Linked DNA regions of Homo sapiens: region 2 is linked to region 1. Evidence: fine-mapped QTL for protein levels in blood plasma. A gene starts in region 1. The other region holds a variant in brackets. All regions are shown on one strand. Distances are from middle to middle.

Evidence for each region. PIP is the chance, under the fine-mapping model, that this variant and not a neighbour inherited with it causes the effect. Sun 2018 read protein levels with aptamers (SomaScan).
Region 2: its variant is fine-mapped to the plasma level of the IL1RAP protein (Sun 2018, PIP 0.95).

The regions. Positions count from the first base shown.
Region 1 is chr3:190,508,225-190,517,796 of GRCh38, forward strand. IL1RAP (interleukin 1 receptor accessory protein) reads left to right here and starts at 5,861. Exons shown (of 12, transcript NM_002182.4): 1 at 5,861-5,995. RefSeq lists enhancers at 5,208-5,297, 6,050-6,551, 6,552-7,051 and a silencer at 5,448-5,797.
Region 2 is chr3:190,623,497-190,631,496 of GRCh38, forward strand. IL1RAP (interleukin 1 receptor accessory protein) reads left to right here. Exons shown (of 12, transcript NM_002182.4): 8 at 3,827-3,953; 9 at 5,854-6,002. It also overlaps the pseudogene GCNT1P3. Among named protein-coding and RNA genes, the nearest start is that of LINC02013, 72 kb to the right of the region's middle. The variant G/A (reference allele first, on the strand shown) is at 4,933.

The DNA of each region.
Region 1 (9,572 bases):
CACAGCTAGTCATTTGCACTGATCAAACCCTTAGTAATATTTCACTTCTCAGGCTCTACTGAGATCCTGCTCTGCTACCTCCCTCATTCTCCATTTAAAAGGCCAAACAACCTCTACACAAATAGGAATGAAGCTCAGCTGTTTCCTCTGCTATCAATAGTTACTAAATAAAATCTGTTTTCATGGCTTTAACTAACGTCAGGCAGTGTTTCTCTTTGACACCTCCACGTGGGAGTAGTGCCCTGTGATGGGAGTCAGCTTCAACCCTATGCAGATAAATAGAGATTGGAAGGGTTCCAGAAGTTCCCCTTTCCCCTCTTGTCTTTCAGGACTGCATGTAACCCAGGTAGTGAGTCTGAAGGATAGAAATGAGTGAAGCTGGCTAGGCGCGGTGGCTCACGCCTGTAATCCCAGCACTTTGAGAGGCCGAGGTGGGTGGATCACCTGATGTCAGGAATTCGAGACCAGCCTGGCCAACATGGTGAAACCTCATCTCTACTAAAAATAGAAAAATTAGCTGGGAGTGGTGGTGGGCACCTGTAGTCCCAGGTACTCTGGAGGCTGAGGGAGGAGAATCACTTGAACCTGGGAAGCGCAGGTTGCAGTGAGCCAAGATCACACCACTGCACTCTAGCCTGGGCGACAGAGCGAGACTCAGTCTAAAAAAAAACAAAAAAGGAAAAGAAAAGAAATGAGTGAAGCCTCCCACTGCACAGTCAAATTTCCAATTTCCTCTTCCAAACGACTTGAATTTCAATAGTTGGGTATATGTGTTTGAACAAATTAGCATATCTCTTCAACAAGGTAGAGTTGAGCTCTTAGTAATCAACACCTTATCATTACTGTTTAATCTGCTTATTTCCCTACACCTAGCCGAATCAAACTGAAGGAAGAGAGGCTTTTGTCAGAAACAGATGCAATAAAAAGGAAGAGGGATACCTGACTTGGAAACCCAGGGCACCACAGAGGAAGTGGGGGCAGGCATAACTAAGTGCTGCGAGGGGAAATGTGAACACCCAGAGAACAGGTACAAGGGTCAGCTGGGGATGGAGGAGAAAAGAGCTGAGGGGTATAAAAGGTGGAAACGTAAAAGGGTTTGGAAGGTGATATAATTACTTTTTCCTTTTTTCACTTTTTTTTTCTTTTCTCTTGGCTCCTGCCCTTCACCTTCCTTCCAAAAGCTCAAAATAAAATGTCTCTATAATGTGCTTTCTTTACTCTGTACCCAGCCAAATATATACACATATATATACGTGTATATATATATACGTATATATATGTATATATATTAAACATATATACGTATATATATAGACACACACACACACACACACATATATATATATATAATTTGTTGTTTTAGTTTTTGTCTTCCAATGATTCTGATCTCCCAAAAAAATGTAAATCAAAGGAAGAGGGCGATATATAAGTCACTTAATATCTTTGTATCAAAGTTTAACCATGAGAGTTTTGGACTGAATTGTAACTCAACAAATGTTTATTCAATGAGTACTACGTGCAAAATATTGTCTGTTTGCCAGGGAAACATTATATTACCCTCCCGGAGTTAGCATTCTAGTGAAAACAGCATTCAATAAGTAAATTAATTAAAATGTTACGTAATGTATTATTTGACTTGGTTGTCAGGAAAAGCTTTGCTGGGAAGGTTATAGTGGAGCAGGGACATTAATGAAGATGTGAGTAAGAGGAGAGAACAAGCAACAGGGGAACAGCGGTCCAGCAAGGGGGAACAGCAGGTGCAAACACCCTAGTATGGGAACATGTTAGTGTGTTTGGTCGACAGCAAGGAGCATGCTATGGGAGATTGAAAGAAGCAACTCAGTGCTGGATCATGTAGGGCCACACAAGGACTTTTAGGCCATAAATGACTATGGAAATTTATCTGATCATGATAAGAAATCACTATTTGAAAGCAGAGAATGACATATTTCTTGTAAAAGAATAATGAATATTTATATTGCATTTCTACATGCCAATCCCCATGCCAAGTGTTTTACTTATATAATCTCATTTAATTTAAAAACAGCACTATAATGTATATTATTGTCATTGTTATTCATATTTTTCAGAGAATAAAACTGTGAAAAAAAGAAATTAAGTAACTTGACCACATTATGTAAACTTGATCCCAGGTAGTCGGGCTTCAGATTCCTTGACCTCAATCACTAGCCTGTATTTATTCTATTTTCATTTATAAGGGTCTCTGAAGTAAGGGCAATAGACTCTTTGGGTAAGAGTTTAAGCAGGGACACCAGTGAGGGGAGAGATGGCAATGACTTGAACCATGGTGGTTGTGATGGAGAAGAGGAATAGCGTGGTTGGATTTGAGATGTGTTTTGAATGTAGAGGAAGCAGAAGGTTTGTGGATATAATGTGTACAGGCAATGAGAGAGAGTGATAACTCCAACTTTTTGACCTGAGCAACTGGGTAAAAGACAGTGTTGCTTACAAAGCTCTGGTTTGGTGTGGGGCAGAAATAAAGTTTGAATTTGAACATGTAAAGTTTGAGATGTATTTAAAACATCCAAGAAGGAGATATGAAGGAGGTAATATGGTATACAAAGTCTGGTTTGGGCTTTAGATTTAGATTTGCAAGTTATTATCATATTGATATTTTAGAAGGCCATGTGTCTGTCTGAGTTCCCCTAGGTAGAGAATATAACCACTTCAAGGATTGAGCTCTAGGACACTGGAACCTTCAGAGATCATGAAGAGGTAGAGGATTCAATAAGAATCTGATAAGGAACAGCAGATGAAATACATGAAAAACAAAGAGTCAAGTACGAGAGAGTGTGAAAGAGCAACAGATTATCTGTGTCTAATGCTGCTGATACATGTACAATGAAGACAGAGAATTGATCACCACATTTGGCAAAGTGAAGATCATTACAGATGCTGACTGTGGAGTGGTAGAGATAAATGTCTGAATGGATTGGGTTCAAGAGACTAGCAAACTCCTGATGCGTCTTACAGCTACAGCAAGATAATTAAAGATAACCTAAAAAAAAGGTGGAGGGTAAAAGCTGGGAGAAGAAGAGAATAATAATACCTTTCCAAATACATCAATCAATTGCAAAATATTTTATTGTGCATCTTCTATACATCCAGCAGTATTAGTCACTGACATCAATGAATTTGTAGCTTCATTTATTCATTTAGGCAACTATTATTCATCAAATGTTTAGTATGTGATGGATATTTAATGGGTATAGCTTTAAAATATTTTTCTCAATTGTTAGCATAACATTTTTTCATTTTTAATTATTACGGGTACATAATAGGTGTATATATGTATGGGTGACATGTGATGTTTTGATACATGCATACAATGTGTAATAATCACATCAGGGTAATGACAACAGGGTGTCATCACCTTGACCATTTGTCACTTCTTTGAGGAACATTCCAATTTCACTCTTACTTATTTTAAAATGCATAATTAATTATTGTTGACTGTAGTCACTCTGTTGTGCTATCAAGTGCTGGGTCTTATACATTCCAGCTAATTATATTTTTGCAACCGTTAACCATCCTCCCTTCCCCACAACTCCCTTGCCTCTGCTACTCTTCCCAGCCTCTGGTAACCATCATTCTACTCTCATATCTCAGTTCCTTTGTTTAATTTTTAGCTCCCACGTGTGAGTGAGAATTTGCAAAATTTGTCTTTCTGTGCTTGGTTTATTTCACTTAAATGTAAAAGGAAAAAGAGATGTTTCTATTTCTGTAATCCTAACATATCAACATTTTTTCACATTCCTTTCAATTGGTGTTCATCTCTCCACAACTTTTACTCAACCTTATTTTGTAAGCCTTTTTCTTTGTAGACATATTTCCATAATATGATAGTTATGATGCAAATATTTTATTCTGTGCGTAGACAGCGTTGGTTAACTAATCATTTTCATTTCCAACCATTTATATTGTGTTCAAACTACAATATACTATGAATATTTGTCTATATGATTATTCATCTTAATGTTATCTTCCTTAAGCTATGAGTAGCCCTTCAATGTCCGGGAATATACATCTGGTTCAATTCTGAATTACTAGCATCTGTTTGGCTTCTAGGTAGTACATGAGACTGAGTAGCGGCTGAGAGCATGAACGTCGAGTGTCTCTAGTCTCATTTTGTATTCTCCACTTGTAGGCCTGTAGCCTTGGTCAAGTTATTTAAATTCCCTTTATCTCCTTTATGAACTGGAGATAATAATAGCACCCTCCAGGTTGTATTGAGGGTTACCTGAATTAATATACACAAAGTCCTTATGATTGCACCTTTTTATTTTGTAAGCACTGTGTAAATGCTTCAGTGTACTATATATATATAAAAGTCTGTGCCCAGAATATATTTAAGGAATGAATAATAAATCAGAAAATGTTTTATTGTTGCTTCATACAGGTAACATTTTAAATTCTTTTGGATTATTTTCTCTTTGGTTCAGTGACAATGTTGTGAGCAGGTGCTGGGTCCCAGGTATCCTGAGATAAATAAAAATTTTGAGCAATTAATTTTCATAAGTGATGTCAAGAAGTAAAGTATCATGAACATTTCTATGGCTCCAATTACACTGATATTTCACCTTAGGAACTGAAGCTCCGCCAGGGCAGGGGCAGCCTCTGAGTTTCGTACTGCTGTGCACCTTTAGCAGCACGGGCACCTGCTGGTTTCATTTCCTTCCCACTCACCTGGGCCCTTTTCTTATTTCACATCTTTTTTCTCCTTTTCCTTAAATGCTTTCTCTGAATCTTGATTCTTGAAAATAAATTAGTAGGATTCAGTTAGGTAGGAGGAGGAGAAAAGAAGATGTGATGAGCAAGAAGATGTGCGAAGACTCGTCAGTCTGGTAGGTGGCTTTGGTTAGGGGGTTTCAGAAATGGGGACAGGTCATGAAGGGCCTTGCCAGTCAGGAAAAATCATGAGGCACTAGCAGTAGGAACACAGCAGAAGGTGCCTGAACAAGAGAGATGACTTAATGAAAGCCTTTATAACGCTTCCCGGGATATATTACAGACTACCATCTACAGTGGCAGAGGGCAGCTGAAGGAAGGCTCTTGCAAAAACTTGGGGAAATGGAAATGAATGAAGGCAAATATTTGTTTTGAGATTATTTCCTTCTATGTAACCTATTAGTTCTTTTATTCGTTCCCCATACATGTATTGAGTGCCTACTTTGTGCCAGGCACTGTGCTAGGCAATGGGTATATTACCAGTGGACAATACAGATTTAGTCTTGCTGTCATGTCCTGTTGCTTGCTCATATGAATGTCAGTTCAAGACAGCAAGAGCTCAGGACTGCGGAGATCGCATCTACATCCTGCCGCGCTCTGTGCCGGCACAGGGTGGTTGCGAAAATCGTGCAGTCTGAATTGATTCAAGGCCTTGCAGCATGATTGCTAAATACGTCGAGACAGGAAGAAAGGGCAGGGTGGCACCGATCTCAACTGCGAGAGCACGATCTTGCAATGAGCGCATGTGTGCGCCTCGGTGTGTAGTGAGGGGCGTAGCTTCCCACAGCGCCTGGCAGCGTGCCGAGCTGCGCTGCAGGACTAACCCTCTCCTTTCCCCGCGCGCTCAAGCCCGCACAGGCGGTGGCAGGGAGCCGAAGGGGCCGAGCGCAGCCTTGCATCCGTCCGCAGGCGGGCCCGGCGCCGCGCCTCCTGGCGGCGGGCGGGACCGTCCAGGACGCCGCCCCGCGGCCGCAGCTCCTGGAAGCCCAGAGCGCCGGTGGATCGCGAGCCAAGGCGGCGGGTGGAGCCTGAGCCGTGAGGCCGTGGCCAATCGCGCCGCTCCGGGGGAGGAGCCCCAAAGGGGGAAAAGAAAGTGCGGCGGAAAGTAAGAGGCTCACTGGGGAAGACTGCCGGGATCCAGGTCTCCGGGGTCCGCTTTGGCCAGAGGCGCGGAAGGAAGCAGTGCCCGGCGACACTGCACCCATCCCGGCTGCTTTTGCTGCGCCCTCTCAGCTTCCCAAGAAAGGTGAGTCTCGCGCCGCCGTGAGGGCTCAGAAGTCACCAAGCCGCAGAATCTCAGGGTAGACGGATTCTTAGAGATCCTATCGTTAAACCCTCCTACTTTACAGAAGAGGAAACTGAGGCACAGAACGAGGCAGCGGCTGGGATAGGTCATACTGCTAGTTAGGACTGGAGCCCGGATTCGAACCCAAACGTTCAGAGACCCATCTTTGCTTTGCAGGGATTTAAGTAACGCGGTTGTGGGACGTCTGCTCGTTGCCGCCCCCATCCTCAGCCCTTTGAGGGGTCTACCCTTGTTTTCCTCCTCACCGCCCCCTCCCCGCTACCACCCCCCGCCCCCATCTCCTCCTTGGTTTCTCCAGACCGCTGCTGGAAGCGCCGAGGACAGAAGGAAGCGGTGTGTCCCAGCACGCCCACTCGGTATCACGTCGCTCTCAGCGCAGAGCTGTGACAGCCTGGGAAAATGCTGCTTGCAGCCTCACTCCCTCTTCCCCTGACCTGCTTTCTCAGAAAGATGCCCCTTCAGAGGGTGTCGGACCAGCTTCTGGAGGAGCGCGGGGAGAGAGGAGCGAGGCCCGGGCGCCAGTGACCTCCTATGGTACTGTTTCTTCCCAGCCCCGGAGGAAGCGGAGCTAGTGGCCCTGTGGGGCACAGGGTGCCCCTCACTTGGGAAGAGCTGACTTCATGGAACCATAGAGCCCCTTCCCTCTTCTAAATACTGAGAGGGAGCAAGGAAGCTGAGTTAAAGAGAAAATCACAAACATAAAAGCAAACTTCGGCTGTTTCCTTTAAGAGCTAGCCCACAGCCTGTCTTCCCTCCACCTTCTGGTTGTGAAATTGTGAACCAGGGCGCCACGCGAAGCATTCTGCTGCTCTGCTGTACAGATCCCTGGTTTAGCTACTGGATGAGAAAGAGGACTTGAGTTTTGACTCCAGCTCTTCCATGTATTAGCAGTGTGAACTTGGGCAAGTTATCTCACCTTTCCGATACTGGGTTTTTCTTTTCTTTCTTTCTTCCTTTTTTTTTTTTCCAGCCAAAAAATGGAGATTTATAATGGTCACAATGAGCCCTTTGGGTAGTTGGAAGGATGAAATGGGATCATTCAAGTAGCATGTTTAGCACAGTGCCTGGCCTGGCATCTGGTTGGTTCAAAACCAATGGCAACTATTGTAAATATTGTTACATAGTAACCTTGCAGACAGTGGGTTTTCAGAAAGGTGATTTCATACCATCTTACAGAGGCATTTTAAAAAAATCTGTAAATGTGGTGTCTTTCTTCTTTTGAATTTGAGCAACTCTTTTATAATAAGAATTTTCTGAATGTTGTCCATATGTGATGTGGATCATGGATGCTTAGCTCGAAATGTAAAATTGATGTTTCTCGGTGATATGAATTTCCTACTAGTTTTTAGGTCAAACCTCAGGCCTGTGAACTGCCCTGATCTGAGACATCCTTTATTGACAAAGAGGGTCTTGAAATGGGTGAGAGGCAGAAAGACAAGAAGACAAAGTTGGAAGTTGCAGCTGTGTTACAGATTATTCTAAGCCTTCTATCCTTGCTCTCTTAGGTCAGTCGAGCAACCTTACATTTTTCATCTAGTATCAGAAAACAAACAAAATTCTCATATATTTCTTTTGGATTGTACAGAGATGCTGCTAAATGCAAACCTTTCTGGACACAAACTTGCCTTATTTAAACACGAACACACAGACATTCACATGCCCACACTAGTCTTCCTGTATTATTGGTATTTTAAAGTTAAATGGATTCCCTCCCACACCCTTAACCCTTCTCATGACAATTGATTTTATTCTGATGAACTTCATGCAATAATTTACTACTATCTACTGGCTTTGCCATGCGTCCTTAAATTGAGTGTCCAGCATTTGTAGTTGGCTGCCTCCTTCACAGGCCATAGCATTTGTATGCAGTATTGGTAAGTGCTTGAGAACAGAGTGTGATACATCTTGATGGAAGATAAGAGCCCAGTGGTGCCCACTTAAGTACCTCCCGCACCAAGCATTAGTAAAGGATGGGATCACCTGCTTCTATCAGCTTGTTCCATGTACATGCATTGTGGTGAGCTGGCTGGGATATGACTGAATGTGTGCCTGAGAGACAGGGGCCTTGTGGGGGAAAAGGAAAATGTTCAAAATAAGGTCAGATCATGAGGATGGAAGGGAGATTAAAAGCTAATTCCTTTGGTTCTGATTCTTCAAAGAAAGGTTGGTCAATTATACCCATATCTTCATACAGATTATTACTTGTTACCAAAACCATATATATGTATAGAACTTTAAAATTTCCAAAGTGCATTCTGTATATATGATACTCCTTGTTACTCACAATAGCCCTGGGAGGACATGGCAAGAATATTAATAGAGGAAGGAGCCCAGGTTTTGTGGTCAGACCTACTTGATTTCAAATTCCAGCTCTCATGCCTGAGTAGTTGGGTGATATTGAGCAGTTTATTTAATCATTTGAAGTTTCTGTTTTATCCAGTTCTAAAATGGAAAAAAAAAATGCTTACTTTAAAAATCTGTATAACGAATAAATTCAATAGAATAATGTCAAGTACATGTAGTGAATAGGTGCTCATTAAATGATATCTCTTCTTAGCTAGTCTCAATTTATTTAGAACATAACTGGAATGAGACTCAGAGAAATGAAAAGTTGCTAGAGGTCATGTGTTAGTATGTTTCAACTCTGGGAATACAGTTCACACCTTTTCATGTCTAGTTTAGGGCATTTCCCATCACACTCTGTTTCCTCGCCAATGAGATATTTAACAATTTACTTCAGTTATAAAGTTGACCTTATTTGTCTGGTTATTTCAGGATATCCTTTTTGTTGAAAAGCAGGTATTTTCTTGCAAAGAGAACAATCCTTAAGCACAGTTCTGTAGAGTTTAGTGGAGCCAACTGTCATAAGAGGGTATTTAAAGCAATGGTCTCTAAGACAACCTTCCTACTCTCCTGTGTTGGATGTAATACACCTTTGATTCCTAAGAGAAAGGGTACTAACTAAGAAGACATAAAGTACAGAATTATATCACTCTTTTCTTCCTGTTGTGAGTGGTTTCTTCCCTCTGCCATCCTCATGCTAGTTCAAAGGCTGGGAAGAAGATTGAACAACAAATGTTATGAGTGTCCATGGCATTATTCAACTTTTTTTTTTGACAATTTTGTGGGTACTGAGTAGAGTAGACAGAATAATGTGCAAAGGTGGCATTTGCAGAAAGAGACCACTGCTTCCTGGTGGTGCTGATTACTTGTCTGGAGTTTCACTCCTCCTTGTGGAAAGTGATGGCTGGAGGCTCATGTTGGAAGATGAAGGGATCTGTTTCTGGCCCAGGCAGTGGGGCTGTTCATCTGCTGAGACTTCTCATAGGCCATTAGATTTCTCTTCTTTGTAGCAAGCACACAGGCTTGCAAACGCAGATGTAGAAGGAACATTTTGCTCCTTGCTTTTGGCATTTTGGAGCATATGTTTGCTCCTATAGGTAAGCAGTTAGCATCATCTTACCTGGCACGGTTAGGAAAGCAGAATGTGGCTTGAGGAAATCAGAGGACGTAGAAA
Region 2 (8,000 bases), 110 kb after region 1:
AATAGACGACTGTTGTAGAGAAACACATGAATTGAAACTGAAATGTCAGAAACCAAAGCAGCTGTGGAGATCAGTTACTTCCCTGATCCCATGGGCAACTCTAGAATTTTTTGCTTCACTCTCGGTATCTGCTCCCTTCTCCCTCTGCTAGCCGTCTTCCTCTGCTGATGAGTGATTTCTGTTTGATGCAAACTTTAGCTTGCACAGGGCTTTGGTTTGCCAAGGCTGCAACATGGGCACAAGATTTAGACATCCTTCAAGCTCCTGCTCCATTATGAAAGGTCAGTGGTGGATCTTGAAGGCAAGACTGTGAATATAATAGCTAACAACTGATAAAACTAGTAGACATTGACGCAGAACACTATTGAATGCTTACTGTGGCTCTTCGGTTCTTCTTTTAGTTTCCATAATTTTTCATTATAGCCAAAAATCATTGATAACTGACCAAATACGGGATAACATGTTACTCTTTTGACTCAAAGCCTCCCACAGTTAAGTGAACAGGAAACTATAGAAAATTTTAACATTTTCTATGTTGTATCACTTACAATACATCCAGTCCAAACCCAGTGAGAGGTGTTAACCTAAATAACAACAAAGACAATAGCTCTCCAAAAAGAAAAGGATTTATTCAGGAATGAATTGCAGATAGCAATCCAGGAATATGAGTGCTATGGCATCCCATGCGGGAACCATAGCCATACCCAGAAAGCATAGGAACATAACAGTTTTGAAAGGCAAAGTGAGGAAGATTACATAAAGTTGTTCTGAAATAATTATCCTTGGTTATAAGAACCAATAACAGGGTAACATCCGTCCAGGCTTGACTGGCATTTGGTGGTCAGACCTCCTCACAGAAATATTATTTGTTTAAGAATCGCGCTGGCCTTTGTGCAAGATAGTGGTGCTCAGAGTCTTTGTACTAGTTTTTATAATAGGCATGTGTGTGTGAGGGCCCTTTTTATATGACCTCCCAACTGTTTTTCTTTGGAGTGTGACACGAGTGACTCCATTTTGACTCTGACAGCTTTCACAGAGGTATAAAAGAGCATCTGTTTAAAATGTGCTAAAGATAATAGTCAGTTGTTAATGGGTGAAAGCAACGGAGAGGATGCCATTCAATAAAAAAAAAAGGTGGAAAAAGAGGTATGTAGTTGTTCATGGAAAGCTGACAAACACAGGAACTGTCAAAATGCATCCTCCACTTGACACACCTCTTGTTTCAGGCAGTGCCTGTTTTGTGGTCAGTGGGGAGTATGTAGGATATGTATCAGAGAATGAAAAAAATTAAAAAGTTTATGGAGTGGGTGCAAGACACATACAGCCCTGATGCGTATCTCTGGGCCCTATCTAAAGGGTCCCTGAAGTCTTCAGCTCACTTTCCTTAAGCCATAAGTACAACTTGTCGGACATGCACGCAGTTGCCAGGCGGGTCAAGTGGCAGTAACTTGAGGGTGATGTTTCCGAGGGTGCTCCCTACCCACACTGCAGCGGGGTCCTCGTGTGCTCGCGGTGCATTTTTGCAGCTGGCGACTTGAACTGGGTTGTGCACAAGCACCATTGGTTTGCCAATAAGTTTAACCTGGATGTGGAACATAGATGTGGACCTCTTCGCCATCCAGTGTTTGGGTGAGCACCGGAGGCATAAAGCTTTATAGACCTTAAAACACTGACCATTATAGGCAATCTTAGGGTGCATTTTGTGCATCCTTCTTATTATTTCTATTTAGTTCCTCTTGCCAATAAGCATCAGAAAAATTGTATGGAGTCCTCTTTGGGGTAGGGATGCTAAGTCTTCATGCAGAAAAGCTGCATGGTTTCTGCAGAGCACAATTGGCTAGAAAGGCTGTAACATTAAATGTTTATCTAGAATTAACATGAGTAGGAGTAAAAGTGGCTGTGGCATCAGGGCGGGCAGCAAAGCATTCTGGAGCGAGGGGGCTAGGGTGACTGGGGAAGAGGCTGATGAAAAAAATAAATCAATTAAAAGAGTTCAGGGACTTAACAAAATGAGATTTGACCTGTGCCAAAACTATTTTGAGAATTTTAAATATGACATTTTTCCTGGTATGAATAAATTTATAGCAACAAACAATAATAAAGATACAATTGATCTTGTATGTTATGTATGTTGACAGAGAAATTTGATTTTGCTCTAAAAAAGATAATAGTGATCAACATAGATGGAGAACAATGCCAAAAAAAATCAAGATAAGTTTGAAAATATGACTTGCTTTGTGAAACACAGAGAACATGGTAAGAGGCTGAATTTCCTAGAATTAGGTATGGCTTTATATAGTCATATGAATACTCTTCCTGCTGTCAGGGTAAACCCTTATTAATAACATAAATATATTTGTCTACCTGTCAAACTATGCTGACAGAAGGATTGTTGAATCCGTGTTCCCTTTATCTTTCTTAGTGACATACAGATAGGGAAAACTGGAGGGAAAAGACTTAAGGACGTTGCAATGGGAGGGTAGATAGAGTATGGCCACGCAGTCAGGTAAGCCTAAGTTCAAATTAGGGTGACGATATAATTTATCATCTAAACCAGGACACTTTCTGTGAGTAAACATAGCCACTACCTATTAATATAGGTAACCAGGAAAGCAGGCATAAAACAGAACTGTTCTGGGCAAACTGGGATGGAAGGTCAGTCTAGGTCAAATCCTGGCCCTTCACTTATTACTGATTTAACTTAGGAATATCATTTAGCATCCTTAAGCTTCACCTTTTACATTTGGGAAACATAGATTTTAAAAAATACCTTATGGTGCTTTTGTAAGATTAAATAAGACCATTAATAAATATAAATATTTAGCATAATAACTTGTACAAAGTTCTTAGTAAGTATGTTGCTACTGCTGCTGTTACTACTGTTTTCTGCCTAGGGATCTCCCTAACCTCATGTTCCATCTCAGAGGGATAGCATAGAGTTTTCTATTTTTAAGTTATCTTAAAATTTATTGAATGCACCCTGATAGGTGGAGCATTTCAAGGTGGGCCTCCTCAGCCAGATCTCTCTGTGATGGTATTTCCCCATCTTTCCTGGCCAAGGACTGAAGATATGGAGAACCTGTCCTCAGTCACCCTTCTTGAGGAAAATAACAAAGGAGAAGAGCAGTCTCTGGAGGTCTAGGGCTAAAAAGAATATTGTCAGAGACCTTTTTTTTTTTTTTTTTTTTTTTGGAGATGGAGTCTCACTCTGTTGCCCAGGCTGGAGTGCAGTGGCACAGTCTTGGCTCACTGCAACCTCCACCTCCTGAGTTCAAGCAATTCTCCTACCTCAGCCCCCCAAGTAGCTGGGATTACAGGCGGTGCCACCATGCCCGGCTAATTTTTGTATTTTTAGTAGAGACGGGGTTTCACCATGTTGGCCAGGCTGGTCTTGAACTCCTCACCTCAAGTGATCCACCTGCCTCGGCCTCCCAAAGTGCTGGGATTACAGGTGTGAGCCACTATGCCTAGCCTTGTCAGAGACTTTTTAAACAAATATCATCATTTTAGAATTTATTTAGATTACATTAAAAATGGTCACTCTGGTAATTTTATACAAAGTTGATGGCCTTCTTTATTTGGTTTCGCTTGTTTGTTTTGGAATGAAGTATGGTGCATTACCTTATGGGAGTCGACTAGAGAATTACTCATAAGCAGGGTTTCAGGTACACATAACTCGTAGCTTCTGATTAGCCAGAGAGTAGAACCAATATAGCCATGTGAAGGATAAACACTAATGGGCTAACTTTGTCTTTGTTTTTTGTTTTGTTTTGTTTTGTTTTGTTTTGTTTTTTGTTTTTTTTGTTTTTTTGGTTTTTTTTTTCAGGAGAGGAGCTACTCATTCCCTGTACGGTCTATTTTAGTTTTCTGATGGATTCTCGCAATGAGGTTTGGTGGACCATTGATGGAAAAAAACCTGATGACATCACTATTGATGTCACCATTAACGAAAGGTATCATGGGGGCCAGCAAGGGAGTGATTAACCTTTGTTTCTCAACTTAATGATCTCTGATGTGTGTTCTAGTCAATGAAAATAAAAATTCTCATTTTTCCCTATCACTAACAAAAATCGGCAAGATTTTCAAATCTTTGGTGATTGCATCCCAAACCAGGGTTACTGGGCTAGCAATGCAAGGAATAGATGCTGCCTGATGACCAGTGGAGAGCTGAATTAGAATGTTCTGAGGCTGAGCATCTTCATCAGATTGTCCAGAGGACATGCACCCTATTGTCTTAAGCCCAGCAAGATTCACACATTTATGATACCCACATGGAAGTAGAGAGAATACATATCTTACATGAATAAAAAGGTCACAATCAAGGGTTGTGGGTACGTGGAAACCTACAGTGTAGTTGTGTTTTTTCCTTTTCTCAATCCTAGTGTCTGGCCCTATGTATTTGTGCCTTAGGTAATTGTGTTTTGTTTTTTTTTGCATTGCAGTGAGCATGCATTTTCTCTCTCCTCCTCTTTCTTATCTCATATAACCTATAGTTACATTTATAATTAGTAATTTTTAATATTAACTAAATACGTTTGTGTAATTTAAATTTTATTTTAAAGGTAGATGGGTAGTAATATAACTCACTTTTAAAATAAAATAACATTTTATTCCTAAATAAACCTGATTTTTTAAAGCGTTGGCAAAGTGGAAAGTGTGCGTCCTTGAAGACAGAAGGTTCCACTGCAAATGAAGCATACCATTACCGAACAGCAGTTGGCTCACTGCACCAATTAAAAATTTGCAGCTGGTCAGCTATATGACAAAGTAATGTAGCTGGAGGCTCACAGGGAGAATTATTGATCTTTTTTAGGAATTTTTAACACTTTGTAGCCCATCCTTATAATAATAATGAATAAATAACAAGGAAAGTCATGTTGTTCCACCTTGCTGCTGTTGAAACGTACTCAGTGTTCATAGGATAGCAGTGGC[G/A]TTAAGCTTAAGCAAAACCAATCAGAGCCCTTAACCAAATTCTCATACCTGACAGTAAGCCTAGTTAAAAAGAGAACCTAGATGGCAGTCAGCTGTAGCAGAGAGATTTTTCTCTGCGATAAGTAAAGGAGTTCAAAGGGATTTTAAATTCTGATCTTGGACCCAAAACACTTGATCTCTGATTCACTGAGAGTTGGATATATTTATTTTTACAAAGTTTACGTGTTCATAACAGCTTTCTCTTTTTATATGTTAGGATTTAACCATGAGATTTCAGATTTCTGACCACAGTATTCTAGCTGTGTTCAGAATCCATGCTTTGGGAATCACTGAAATGCATCAGCTATTCCTATGGGATAACAGTAATACCTACATGAATATTTATTAAGCATTATTCTAATATTCATGCCTTAGCATATTCAGTCCTCAGAATTCCTGAATAAATTAATGCATGTAATGCACTGTGTGGGCATTATGACTTCCCTCTTTTCCAAAAGAGGAACCTGAGACCTGGAAAGATTAGTTATCTCACCCAAAGTATATAGCCAGGAATTGACAAATCCTGGATAAAAACCCAAAAGGACCTGGCCCCAGAAGCTTCTCTCTAAACTGATACAGCATCCTGGCTCAGAAGTTTAAGCAAAAGAGACATTTTGTTTTGAAGAGAGATCTATAAAAAGAAGCCAGTATTGGGATTTGGTCTAGACAATGGGATAGTGTGTAGCGTAGATGGTATAGTATAGTGTTAGAATCTTACCATTAATACTTTGTAATCACTGCATTATAGGTGGCTCAGCTTATCAACCTTCCTCGCCCTCACCTGTAGTGGGGGTCTGTGGTTGCTTACTTGTCTGATTCCTACACAGTCCATAGCTCTTGAGTCACTCTCAAATGCTTTGATTTTCTTCTCTCTATTTCTAGTATAAGTCATAGTAGAACAGAAGATGAAACAAGAACTCAGATTTTGAGCATCAAGAAAGTTACCTCTGAGGATCTCAAGCGCAGCTATGTCTGTCATGCTAGAAGTGCCAAAGGCGAAGTTGCCAAAGCAGCCAAGGTGAAGCAGAAAGGTAATAGATGCGGTCAGTGATGAATCTCTCAGCTCCAAATTAACATTGTGGTGAATAAGGACAAAAGGAGAGATTGAGAACAAGAGAGCTCCAGCACCTAGCCCGACGGCATCTAACCCATAGTAATGAATCAAACTTAAATGAAAAATATGAAAGTTTTCATCTATGTAAGATACTCAAAATATTGTTTCTGATATTGTTAGTACCGTAATGCCCAAATGTAGCTAAAAAAATCGACGTGAGTACAGTGAGACACAATTTTGTGTCTGTACAATTATGAAAAATTAAAAACAAAGAAAATATTCAAAGCTACCAAAGATAGAAAAAACTGGTAGAGCCACATATTGTTGGTGAATTATTAAGACCCTTTTAAAAATCATTCATGGTAGACTTCAAGAGTCATAAAAAAGATTGCATCATCTGACCTAAGACTTTCGGAATTTTTCCTGAACAAATAACAGAAAGGGAATTATATACCTTTTAATATTATTAGAAGCATTATCTGTAGTTGTAAAACATTATTAATAGCAGCCATCCAATTGTATGCAACTAATTAAGGTATTGAATGTTTATTTTCCAAAAATGCATAATTATAATATTATTTTAAACACTATGTATCAATATTTAAGCAGGTTTATAATATACCAGCAGCCACAATTGCTAAAATGAAAATCATTTAAATTATGATTTTAAATGGTATAAACATGATTTCTATGTTGATAGTACTATATTATTCTACAATAAATGGAAATTATAAAGCCTTCTTGTCAGAAGTGCTGCTCCTAAATCAGACTGTGTCTAAAACTTTCTTTGTGTCTCTCACCTAACACAGAATCCCAGAAAATCCCTTCAAGGATGTTTTCAATGGTCTTGAGAAAAGTAATGATGAGTTATCACACATGAAATCATGAAATCAGGTCATTCAGAATCCTCCTGGCTCCTAGTCTATAGAGTGTGTAATATTTCTTCAAAAGTGAATAACATAGCACATAATTGTTACATTTTACAGAGACTTAATGCTTTTTTAAAGCTGATGAAAAACAGGATTCACCTCAAACTTTCATTACAACTTTAAAACTAAATAGCAAAGGCCTGAAATGTATATGCTGCGTATGAAGTACTAGTGAATCAGTTCAGGGTAATTCATTGCTTCTGCTCCTCAGAAGCCAGTGTGAAAAGGAAAGACTGAAGTACATGATGTAAGGCAGTTTCCCAAATTGAGTTCTCGGGAACACTACTAAGAATCAGTATTGTCCTGCAATGCATTATTGTACTCTAGAATCAGAGCACCTGTGTTGAAATTCTGGTTTCTGCACATCCTAACTCTGTGAAAAGTAAATCTCTCTGAGCCTTAATTTCCTTATATTTAAAGTAGACACAATAATACCACTACCTTATAAGGTTGTTTTAAAGTGCTCAGCACAGTTATTGGCATATATACCTATATATGAAATGCTCAATAAATATGAACTCATTATTTCCTTAAGATTTTCATAGGTGTTATTTGACAAAGGCTTTTATCATCAAATAAGTATCATTTATGTCTGGATTTTAAAAAATCAATCAAGTTACTTTAGTTAGGACCCATTCAAGTATTTAATATGTGAACATTTGATGGGAATATCTGCGGGAAGTTGGATTATAGTGGCAGGATGTTTTCATATGTATTTGACTCCAGATTTCTTAAGTATGGAGCTTTTTGTGGGGATCATCTTCTGAGGGATGTATCCTGGGGAATAATTATGGAAGGTGACATAAATTAATAACTTATTGTCAAATGAATAGGATCAGAACAATCAAAGCAAGGTGTAATGTAGGAGTGAAGCACAAGTTTGCCTCCCAGAGCGACCAGAGTAGCTCCCCTTTTACAGAAGCCCCTGCTCTAAATGGTGTAATAAGGACAGTGTCAGGAATGTGAAGTGACAGGTGGATCCTCTAGACTAGATGATCTGTGCTGAAAGCTGATATAAAATCACTGTTTGGTCACACCTGTGTATT